Regions from separate parts of the Homo sapiens genome. Here region 2 is linked to region 1. Evidence: fine-mapped QTL for protein levels in blood plasma. A gene starts in region 1. The other region holds a variant in brackets. All regions are shown on one strand. Distances are from middle to middle.

Region 1 (5,379 bases):
GTAATGGAATTATATCTGAGCAGGTAAATGGAGTTCAAAGAACCTTGAAATTCATTTTTCTCTTTTCTCCTGAGATAAAGTTATACATTTCATTAATTATAATGTTTGATAAATCTTTAAAAATGTTTCACTAAATATATTAATTCAATGGATATTCTTTACCCATTCATTTTATTTGTTCAACAAAGAAAATTGAGCCCCTGCTATTTGTTAAACACTATACTAACAACTTTGGATTTATGACAATAAGCTGCAGGTCAGTTTCTCTCCTCAAAGAACTAAGAAAAACCACGACTTTACTGCATTTACCCAAGTGACGGTGTCAGCTAAATTTTAATTCATTTAAGAAAACATTATAAAACAAATTCTCAAAAACGAAACCATACAATAGTAACTTTAAACACACTTTAATAGTCTTATCTATATGAAGTTTTCTCACAAAGTAACCAAAAGCACTGTTTTGGTAAAAGTGCTAATAACATAATCTTTTGATAGTAGTCCAATAAGGAAATCACAAGGTACTATGTACTGTGATAATGAAAATCCAACACTTGGAAAAGATATCTTAAGTTATTCCTAAAATAAAGCAAAATGTATAATTAAATATAGTCTTATACAATATTAAAACTGTCTCTGAATATATGAATATTTACAAACATGAGTAATAAAGTAACTCTATAGCATACCTTATAAATGATCACAACTATGTATTTTGGATTGTAACACCTGCAAATTTGTAACAAAAAGGGCCTTAATATTTTTCGAATATATTATTCTTCACTAACTTAATTCAATATTCTACTTATTATCAAGTCATAATTTTTGTTTACTATTAACTATTTTATCTATATGTTTAACTATATGTAGGTATTAACTGTAATAACCTTTATGTCTGCAATTATTTAAAACCCTTGATAGATGAGAAACATTTTTCAGTTCAGAGGCATACCTCTCCAAAGCAAAAATCAATGTTAATCAGCCATTCTAATATGCCATGGAAAATCCTGACATTTTTTCATTGTATTTTTCACAGAAATTTTTTAATCATTCATCAGCTAAAAGATTTAAATTTTCTTTAAAAGGACTACAAAAACACACCTTTCCTGAATTTATGCACACTACCTACTAAATATTATCTCCATTTACATATAAGGAAACCAAGGCACAAAGGTGTCCATTTTGTAAATTGCAAGGTCATTTCCTAACCAAGCAACTAATCCTACACCATCAACTTATATTATATGTACGCCACTTCCAAGTGCCATAAAACAATTACTATACCTTAAAACTGCCTCTGCAATGCTTATGTGATTCTCTTTTATCAAAAGGGTAAATGCAACAAGCTTAAACAAGGAAAGATGGAAAAGGAAAATTATAAAAATACAACACTTACTTTTTATAGTGAATCATTTATTTTTAAATAATGAGATGTAAACAGTTTTTAACATAAAAATCAAGTAACCAACAGTGGTTTCTTATATTTGCAAAAAAAAAAAAATTTCATCCTTCAGGTAGATCACGCAAAACTGAAGCCTACTCATACTTGTAGATTCAAGTTAGAAAAAAAAAAACTGGATTCTAAAACAAGTAATTAAATACATGATATTGCAAAGAAAAAAGTGAATAAAAAATAAAATCAGATAAATTAGGGAATGACTGATATGATGGTTAAAATCCTCATCTTAAATATTAAATCCTTCCATTCAATGGAAGGCAACGATTAGTAATGACATATTCTGCTACCGAAAAACAAATACAAAACTTTTCTTATTCAAAACTTCCGAAATTTTATATCAAATACTTCATTCAAATATTCAATATAAACAAAAATGTTTCCTAACAGAAACTTAGAGCATAAAGGATAAACTGTTCCTGAGAGTTCAAATTGAGACTGCATTTCTAATTATGATATAATGCTATGAACAATCAGAAAAATGAATGTTACCTACCATGCAAATTTAAATTTAAGAACATTAGACGGATTGAATAACCAATAAGTCAATTACATCAATTAGTGAACAGAAAAAAGACCTTAGCTAATCGTGAATCTAACACCAAAGAAAAAATTTAAGTCGAATCCACCGCACATCTTATTACATAGAAAAGGAAATGATTAGAGTAAGTCGTATTTAAGTACCTAGTCTAGCTGGGGATCAATTAATTAATCGGTTATAGGGCAGGACGTGAATGTTGAGATCGGATGTGCTTTCTTTCATCGTTATTCCAGTTCATCATCCGCAAGTGCAAGAGAAGGTGTCAGAGTACCGAAGCTAGGGGGCATGCTGTAGCAAGGGGAAAAGAAAAATGGGAAAGGTGCAATGGATGCTGCATAGTTGAATAATTATCTGGGTGGCACAATGGGCGAGTCCTGCCGACATGAGCGCTGAGTGAGCGGCTCCGTAACTCTGCCCAAGGCAGCCCCCATGAACAGGCACCAGAAGCGACAGCACCGCTTCGCCTCCCCTTCCAACGAAGAAAAGGATGCCCGCACTCGCTTTACCGTTATGTTTTCAGACACCGACTCGCGGAGCAAACACGCAAACGCACGAGCTCGCTTTACCGAGCCTCGCGCACGTAGGGCGAGCAGGGGATTCTCTGTCGCCCGGGGCTACCGCCTCCCCCGGAAAGAGGCACGGGGCGGACCGCGGGCGCGGGTGGGCAGGGAAGCCCGGGCGGTGGCACCTCAGGTGACACCCACAGTCTCTCCAGCGAGAGCAGCCCCGGGGCGGTCCCTGCAGCCAAGCCCCAGGCGCGCCCGCCGCCGTCTCCCTCGGCACCCAGCCCCGCTGGCGGGTGGGCGGTGGGCGCTCGGAAAACCCGCGGATGGGGGTGGGGGCCGGGGCGGGGAAGGCGCGCCCATCCATCCCCGTCACCTTTGCGGGCCACACACCACTCGGTCTGCTCCGGCCAGTAAGGAAGAGTTCCTCTCCCAACACCCCCTCCCCGAAAAAAGCAATTCCTCAGGGACTCGCGCTCACCGTGAAATCTTGGGGGCTCACGCCTTACCCCTTCTTCATGCTTCGGCAGCGGTCGCCGGTCCCCCTCGGCTCGCGGGACTCCGCCTAGAGCCCCCAGGAGGGTCGGGCTCTGGGGCGGAACCCGCTCAGGGCAGCGGCCCAGGCGCCAGGCCACAGGGAACGCCGCCTGGGGCGCCAACCCGCCGCCGGACCCACCGTGTGCTCGACGCGCGAGTGAACAACACCGCGAGCTGCCGTTCCCCCCGCCCCCTCCCCGCGCGAGACGCTCCACAACCGGGCGCAGGGACCCGCGCCAGAAGCAGGGGGGACCGCGAGACTCTTTCCGCCTATGGTCCCATCCTTGCCCCCCGCCCCAGGAGCTATTCCTGGCCAGTCAGAGGTCTCAAAACTTCAGATTCTCACTTTCCTCTTCAGCCTCCAGTGCCCAGGTGCAGCCGAGGTGGGAAATCCAGCCTCCGCCCACTCCCCCATTAGTGGGGCCGAAGCTCGCTCTTCCCCCCTTTCCTGAGGTTCTGTGGTATTGCCCAATCCTCAGTTTGGGGGAGGGGGACGAAGAGAACACTGCTTGGCTAGGGAATGAGGGAAGATGATAGCCAATTGAATGGAACATCCATTCGGGGGCGGGGTCAAAGGGGGACACGCCCCCGTTCCGCCCCCTCGTTGCAAACTACACTTCCCATTGTGCCCTCTCGCGCTTCCTGCCGCGCTGCACGCTGGGAGTGCAGGACCGCGAGGCCTCAAGGTATTTTGGAACTCATATTCTTTAGTCAACTAGGTCCTAAATGTTATAAACTATTATAATTCTCCCTTTTTCCCTAGATAAACTTTTTTAAGCTCTCAGCTCGACAGTAGTTATTCTAATAATAATTAGCTTATTGTTTCAAAATGTAAGACATTATTTCTTAGCAAAGAAAGTTAATGATGTGTTCCATTGCAATCTGTCAGGACCTGGGAGCCTCTTCTTCTTCCGCCCTGGCAGGGTCTCCGCAGAAGATTTGTTGCCGTCATGTCGGCTGCGATTGCAGCTCTGGCCGCTTCCTATGGTTCGGGTTCAGGGTCCGAATCGGACTCGGACAGTGAGAGCAGTCGGTGTCCGCTGCCAGCCGCCGACTCCCTCATGCACTTGACTAAATCGCCTTCATCAAAGCCGTCTCTAGCAGTGGCAGTGGACTCGGCTCCGGAGGTGGCAGTTAAGGTAAGCACTTTTGCTACTAATGCAGTGTGGGAATTGTTGGCTTCAGCTCCAGAACTGCCAGCCGCTTGTTAGGTACCGGGTTACCTCTTTCTCAGTGCTCAGAGATAAGTTGCTAACGTTTGAATTTCTTCTCCTTCCCACATGCATCCTCGGGAGAGGCAGAATTGGAAGTTCGGAATAGCCCTCCGATGCTCTCTGCCCTTGCCTCCCGCCATCAGAAAGCAAGTGGAAGGAGGGGATGAAATTTGAATTTGTGGATTAGGGACATAGCCTGGAAAGTGCAGGTGTAATCTCGGAACATAAGTGAAATTAGATCAGGACTTCCCAAACTAGAGTATTGTGTGAGCAGTGGCCTCGATTTGTCTTATTTTTGAAGAACTAGGTTCTAATCCTGGCACCACCACTTGTGTGAACTTGGACAAGTTATGCAGCCTCCTTTCTTTCCTCACCTGTACAGTGGAGATCATTTTCAAAACATCTGTCTACATGAAAAGATGAGTGTGAAAATTGAGTGAAATTACACAAATAAAGCATATAGCACAGAGCCAACTAGTGAGAGTGCAGTAAATGTTTTATGATTGTGTGTGTTAATACAGTGAGAAAAAGGCCTTGGATTTGAGAAACAGCTGCATGATCTCAATGGAGGAAGCTGATTAATAAGGCAAGAGTTTCCAGGCAGAGGTGACAGGCAAGCCTGAGAACGCAAAGAGCCTAGTGGGTTTGAAGAACTGAGGAAAAGCTGATGTGTCTGGAGCCTGATGAGAGCATCTACCAATTGGTAGTGTAGGCCCAGTAGAGCCCGAGGTAGGTGATCAGCTCAAGATGTGAAGAGGGGAGGCGGTGTCCAAAAATTCCTTTGTATCATGTCCCCAAGTCTAGTTTAATGACTTAAGAAGTGTTTTACAGGTTTTTAACAAGCTGTATGTGAATTTTACTTTTTAAAAATGGACATCTGTCATGAAAGAATGCTTAGAATCCTCCTAACTTCCTATCAAAACAAAACTTTCCAAACTTAAGCCCCTCCAGTAACCTCCTGAGTCTTCTCCTTTCACAGCTCAGCTTTTTGGAGCTCTCTTTTTGTCTTCGTCTCATTTTCTCCTCAACCCAATGCAGTCTGGCCCTATCCTCTTGGGAAACTACTGTCTGTGAGTGATGTCCCAGGCCTTCCAGTTGTCAAGTTCAGCCATCTGACTTAAATGTCTGCAT
Region 2 (5,379 bases), 220 kb after region 1:
GGGACAGATTGTTTTTGGCTCTCTCAGTAAGAATAACCAATTTAGAAGCTTAAATTATGTTCTTAAACATGTAATAATAGATAAATGTTTTTAAAGGTAAAATAACTGTAAAGGTTGTTTTTCCCCTTAACATTGGCATAGAAAGAAAAGTAAATTGGAGTTTTGTAGTAATACTGAGCAGCATGTTTCTGTGTGTTTATAATCTTCCAAAAAGTGAACACGAAGAAAAGAACTTTAAAAAGAGCTTAGGAGGCCTCTACCCTTTACCATTCATATGACCTCGGCCAAGTTATTCCACTTCTCTAAACTTTAATCTTATATCCATAATATGGGGGTAGTAATACTGACTCTCTAGGCTCGTTGTGAAAATGAAATGAGACACATCTGGAAAAAGCATAACACTGTGTCTAACACACTATAGCTGCTCAATAAAGACCTTTTATTTTTAAAAAAGTGCTTAGGGGTTTTTCATGCTACTGTAAAATACAAGACCCAGTGCATTATCTATGTGTATTCTTATCCTCCATACCTGTATATCACTTATGTTTCATTAAGGATGATATTTCAATTTTGAAAAGTTTTAACTGATCATTATTTGAATATTATTTTGATTTTGTGGGTTTTTTAAATTCTTACATTGTAGATTCCATGTGTTAATATTTGAACATTATGTTCTGTGCTCTAGATATCCTAATTAATTAAAACTCAGAATTATTTTCATAATTTGGGGGAATAAGAGAATCTGCCAGCCTTGGGATATCAGCAGATTTTTAAAACTCACTGAAATTGTTTCCTAGGGATAAGAATGCCTAACTTATAGGGTTTTTATGATGATTATGCAAGAATTCAATAAGTGCAAATGTCTTTTCTTTTCCATTTCAAGGGTTCCCTGCTGGTCAAGCTACTGATAAAAGTCCAACTTGTGCCTGGTGACTTCTTAAGCTATCCTAGTGGCTGGGCCTTGTCAGGCTTCCTGTGCTGGATTGCTCCCAGGCCTTGGATCCCAGAGGAAAACTCACTAAATGTGCCTGGAGACTGGTCACCTTTATGTTGTTGTAATGCAACCACATAGTGATGCCCAGTCATTATTATGTATCCCATGGGTAATGCATAAGATGGCACCAGTGCATAGGAGGAAACTGTACCCAAAAGTCAGATGTTAAATTAGGTGACCAAGTGCCTACCAGGCTGCTTTTATGACCATATGAGGTAGTTATTCTGGAAGTTTGGGGTGACATGGTTGGAGGTACAAGAAGCATGATGACTTTCCTCTTGGGGCTTCTTGCAACTGAGCAAGACCTCATCCTGGAGAGAGAGAATACCATTGTCCCAACCTCCCATGAGGAAATAGGGTTAGGGGCACTCAAGAAGCAGGGCTCACGAAATAGCCCCAGCATCCTCTGGTCATCACCCTAAAACATGAGAGTGTCCATTTCCCCAAGCTTAAGTTAGCCCTCTGCTGGACTGCATCAACCTGACCCACAAACAAGGAGGATGGTCATCCTCAGCGCCTTTCCTTCACCTCACTGGGAGTTTCAGCAAGGAGGTAAATTGAGTTGGCTGTGCCCCTGAGGAAAATAAGGGTCCACTAAGCAAATCTTAAATGCGTACACACACACACACACACACACACACACACACACACACACACACTTGGCCTCCCAGGAGCAGAGTCCCCTCATCCCCTCTCTGCTCTTGGAATCAGAGGCAATTCCCATACTCCACTGAAGCTGAAGCCATGGCGAGAAAGGAATCTCAGGTAGCACTAAACAGGGAGGTGGGGGCTGTGATGCGGACAGCCTGTGGCTGGCAGCGGGGACAGGGGAAAAGACGAGCTCCTGGTGAGCTCCAGGGCAGACATGGCTGGCTAATGGGGCTAATGATGGTGCTGAGGAAGCCAGTTTCTTTCACAGGCATTGCTGTGAGTCAGGCCGAGCAGGAGAACACAAGATACAGGAGAAGAAAAAGATGGGCATTAGAGGACTCCCCCAGAGAAAGTTACAGAGAGGCCTAATCAGAGGAGGGGCGAGGAAAGTACAGGGCAAGTAGCTCAGTGTGGCCAGTGCTGCGGTCAGCATAGGGCCTCCTTGGGGACACAGGATAAGGCATGGCCTCTTGGAAAGAGATCAACGTGTCCATGTTACAGGGCCCAGCACAGAAATGGGCCACCCAGTTTCCTGAATGTTGTCAAAGGCAGGACAATCCTGGTCCCTCTGGGAGGATTGATTTAG[A/G]TGGGCTGCCTGGAGGAAGACTTAATGCCTCGCTGACTCATTTCCTGGAAGGAGCCAGTAATAAAGCAGCAGAATTTAACTCCACTGGCAGAATATGATATGAAATATGACCTGTGTGGGTGATTCAAACTCTGTGGGGTTTTTGTTTGTGTTTCTTCTGTATATTATTGGGCATTATTGTTTTACTTTTTGTTTGAGAACAAGATGATCTCTTCTATCTTTTGAAAAATAATAAAGATCTAATTTGTAGCACAAAATTTTTTTGTGGAAGTTTGTATTATTTCAGAAGAATCGTGCTTAAGCTGAAGCCATTGCTGTGTGGCTTGCTGAGCAAATGCTTATTTTTGAGTGAGAACACTGAAGGCTGAACACTCACATTGTGTGGAAGAGGCGTAGGTGGCAACAAAATAGACCCTGAGTGTGAGGAGCAAACAGAGATTGTGTGGCGTCCCATGTGGGTCGCCTGGCGGGAGGTCAGTGGGTGGCAGCCCAGAGGGAGCCCCAGGTGTCGCCCCCTCACCGGGACGCGGCCCTCCCGCCCACCCCGCCTGAAATGCTCGCCCTGAAAGGCCGGACTTGGGCTGAGAGGAGTCCCGTGCTGCAAAGCCTCCTGAGGGAGGAAAGGGGACACGTGGCCTTGTTCCTCCACCAGCCTGGTCGGACGCAGGCTCCGGGCTGCAGGGAGCTAATCTGCATGGCCAGGGGCCACCGGGCGCTGTCTGTGGAGGCCCCACACCGGGGTCAGGAGGGAGCCAGGTCTCAGGAGCACAAGGGAGTGAGGAGCAGAGGCTCTGAAGTCTTCCCGCCGCAGCACACCCTGTGCCTTCTGTCTGAGGCACTCACATCTCAGCCGCCTTCCTGGCGGGCACGCGTATCAAACAAACGGACTGAAGAAGGTCTCCCCAGGACTCGGGTAAAAGGGCAGCCCTCGGTCCTCTCCTCCCCGCTGCCCATAACCGACCCACAGCCGGGAGGCGGCGTATTCCCAGGCACCGCCCCCTCCGCCGGTCTCCGGCCGATGGCGTTGCCGTCCTCGCAGCCCCAAGCCCCCTGGCTGGGGGTCATTTTAAGTGGCGGGAAATGCTGACCGCAGGCCCGCAGCCCAGGACGGGGTGGCAGGGTTGACCCAGGCCTTCCTGCCGCAGTCAGGGGTCAGGTCTGAAAACACAGAGATGATGGAACTACGGGGCCTGTCTTCTAGAAGGCGATGCTTTGGAAGCAGGAAGAAGACATTGTTCAGATAACATTTGATTCGGTGTGGAAATGACGGGGGCTGCCCGGAGCTAAAACACTCTCTCTCGGAGTAGTGGGAGCTGGGAGGGTGCGCAGGAGCGGGCCGGGGCGGGGACTGGCGCCTCATCACGGGCCCGCGTGGGGACCTCCAGCCCCCGCAGAGGAGGACGCTGCCCACGAGGCAGGGCGGCACCAGGCCAACTGGGAGACTTATGAGGACTCCTCAGAGGAGGTGACTGTGTGCTGGGGGGAGGCTGGCGTCCCTGCCTCTGCCCCCTTCTACAGTGACACCTCTTCAGGTGCCCTGGGCCTTCATGCCCCCTCCCTGCCCCATCAGAACTCTCCTCATCTCCCCAGGGCCTTATCAACAATTTGGCCCTTAAAGCAAAATGAAAGCAATGAGCCCTCTCTCCCAGGAGGAGTTAAGCATTTGCATTTCACTTCTAGACTTTAGAGCCAATGCTTCAATGAAAGCTTGGGCCCGAGAAAGTTTGTGAAGAAACGCTTCACACCGCCTTCCCTGATTACCCATAAGCTCAAGGCTATCACTAGGACTCAAAACTTACTCTGGCTCATCTGAGCCGCACCTTCTTTCAGCTGGGCACCCAGAGGACCCCTGTCTGGCCCTTCTCCAGCCATGCTTTCTTCTTGAGGCAGTGAGTGTGTGGGGCTCGGGCATGTGCCCAGCCAGAGCCCTCTCCCTTCACTTCCAGCCCGTCTTCTGGGGACCCAGGATCCCCATATTCCCTGTCCTCTTCCAGGACCTGCACTGTCTTCCTCCCGGGGGCAGACTGTGCCACTGTGTGCACCCCGGAGCCCAAGGAGTGGCCAAGGACAACTGTCTTCAGGGAAGATATGGATAGAGCGAGGGTGCTTCCCGGCATGCTCCTGGGCCCCTTTGCTGCCATGTGAAGATGCAGGACTCTTAGGAATCTAGAAATTCTAAATGTCAACTTGGACTTCCAGGTGGTTGTGGTAGAGGTGTGTTCTTTAGCTACACCTCAAATCAGGATTTACATTGCAACAGAGTGAAAATTTCAGGGGACAGAGGAAAAGAGAAAAGACAATTTCTTTCTGCACTAAATTCATAAATTTAAATTGTGGCATTGCAGCAGGTTTGTGTTAAGGGAAAGGTGGTGGAAAATATTCATGAAAAGAAAATGTTTTTCTTCTCCAAATTTGGGGTGTGTGGAATTTTGTTGTGCCCCAAAGTAAAAAAGTGCTTTAAAAAAAAAAAAAGCAAATCAAGTGAACATATCAAAAAGACACAAGAGCAGTTTGAAGGGGCTCCTACTCAGCTAATCTTGGACAATTTGAACATCAAAATGATGGGGGGGATAAATTATAATCCATTGAATAAAATAGGTACCAATGAGTTCATCCTGATATAAATACATATAGGAAAAGGAAAACTTCTTTACAGTAGAAAGCAAACTATATAGATGGAGTTATAAAATGATCACTTGGAAAATATCACAGTAATAAATAGTTCAGGCAAAAATCATCAATGGATGCTAAAACTCGTAGGTGAAAGTACTACTTTCATAGGAACTCGTTTCATGGGAATAGGATATTTACATAGTTTCAGGTATATCACAACAAAATATTTAGTAATTACAAAGAGAAAAAGTAGTAACCTCACAGTAGAGATAACTGGCATTCTAGGTGATGAAAGTTAACAGCCCCAATAAGGGGATAAACTGATATCATCTTCCTCCTGCTATGATGCAATAAGGATTCAACATTACTTCTATGCATTCTCACCCCAACATGCAGGACCTCAATCCGATCCCGAGGAAACATCACACAAACCCCAACTGAGGGACATTCTATTATATGAAACAACTGGTCTGTACTATTCAAGCTTGTAAATGTAATAAAAGACAAAGACAGACTGGAGACTAAAGAGACATGA

Which allele goes with the higher level. Positions count from the first base shown, and alleles are read on the strand shown. Strength reflects both the effect of a copy and how common the allele is.
For the plasma level of the protein whose gene starts at base 3,210 in region 1, A is the high allele of the variant in region 2 and G is the other (strong association).

The links. PIP is the chance, under the fine-mapping model, that this variant and not a neighbour inherited with it causes the effect. The UK Biobank Pharma Proteomics Project read protein levels with antibody pairs (Olink). The fine-mapping took linkage between variants from a reference panel, not from the people measured, so its PIPs are less certain.
Region 2: its variant is fine-mapped to the plasma level of the WASF1 protein (UK Biobank, PIP 0.98).

The regions. Positions count from the first base shown.
Region 1 is chr6:110,176,461-110,181,839 of GRCh38, forward strand. WASF1 (WASP family member 1) reads right to left here and starts at 3,210. Exons shown (of 11, transcript NM_003931.3): 1 at 2,979-3,210; 2 at 2,138-2,282. CDC40 (cell division cycle 40) reads left to right here and starts at 3,967. Exons shown (of 15, transcript NM_015891.3): 1 at 3,967-4,173. The coding sequence starts at 3,985. RefSeq lists silencers at 2,570-2,889, 3,130-3,239.
Region 2 is chr6:110,396,775-110,402,153 of GRCh38, forward strand. All of the region lies in intron 4 of DDO (D-aspartate oxidase), which reads right to left. Among named protein-coding and RNA genes, the nearest start is that of DDO, 16 kb to the right of the region's middle. The variant A/G (reference allele first, on the strand shown) is at 2,232.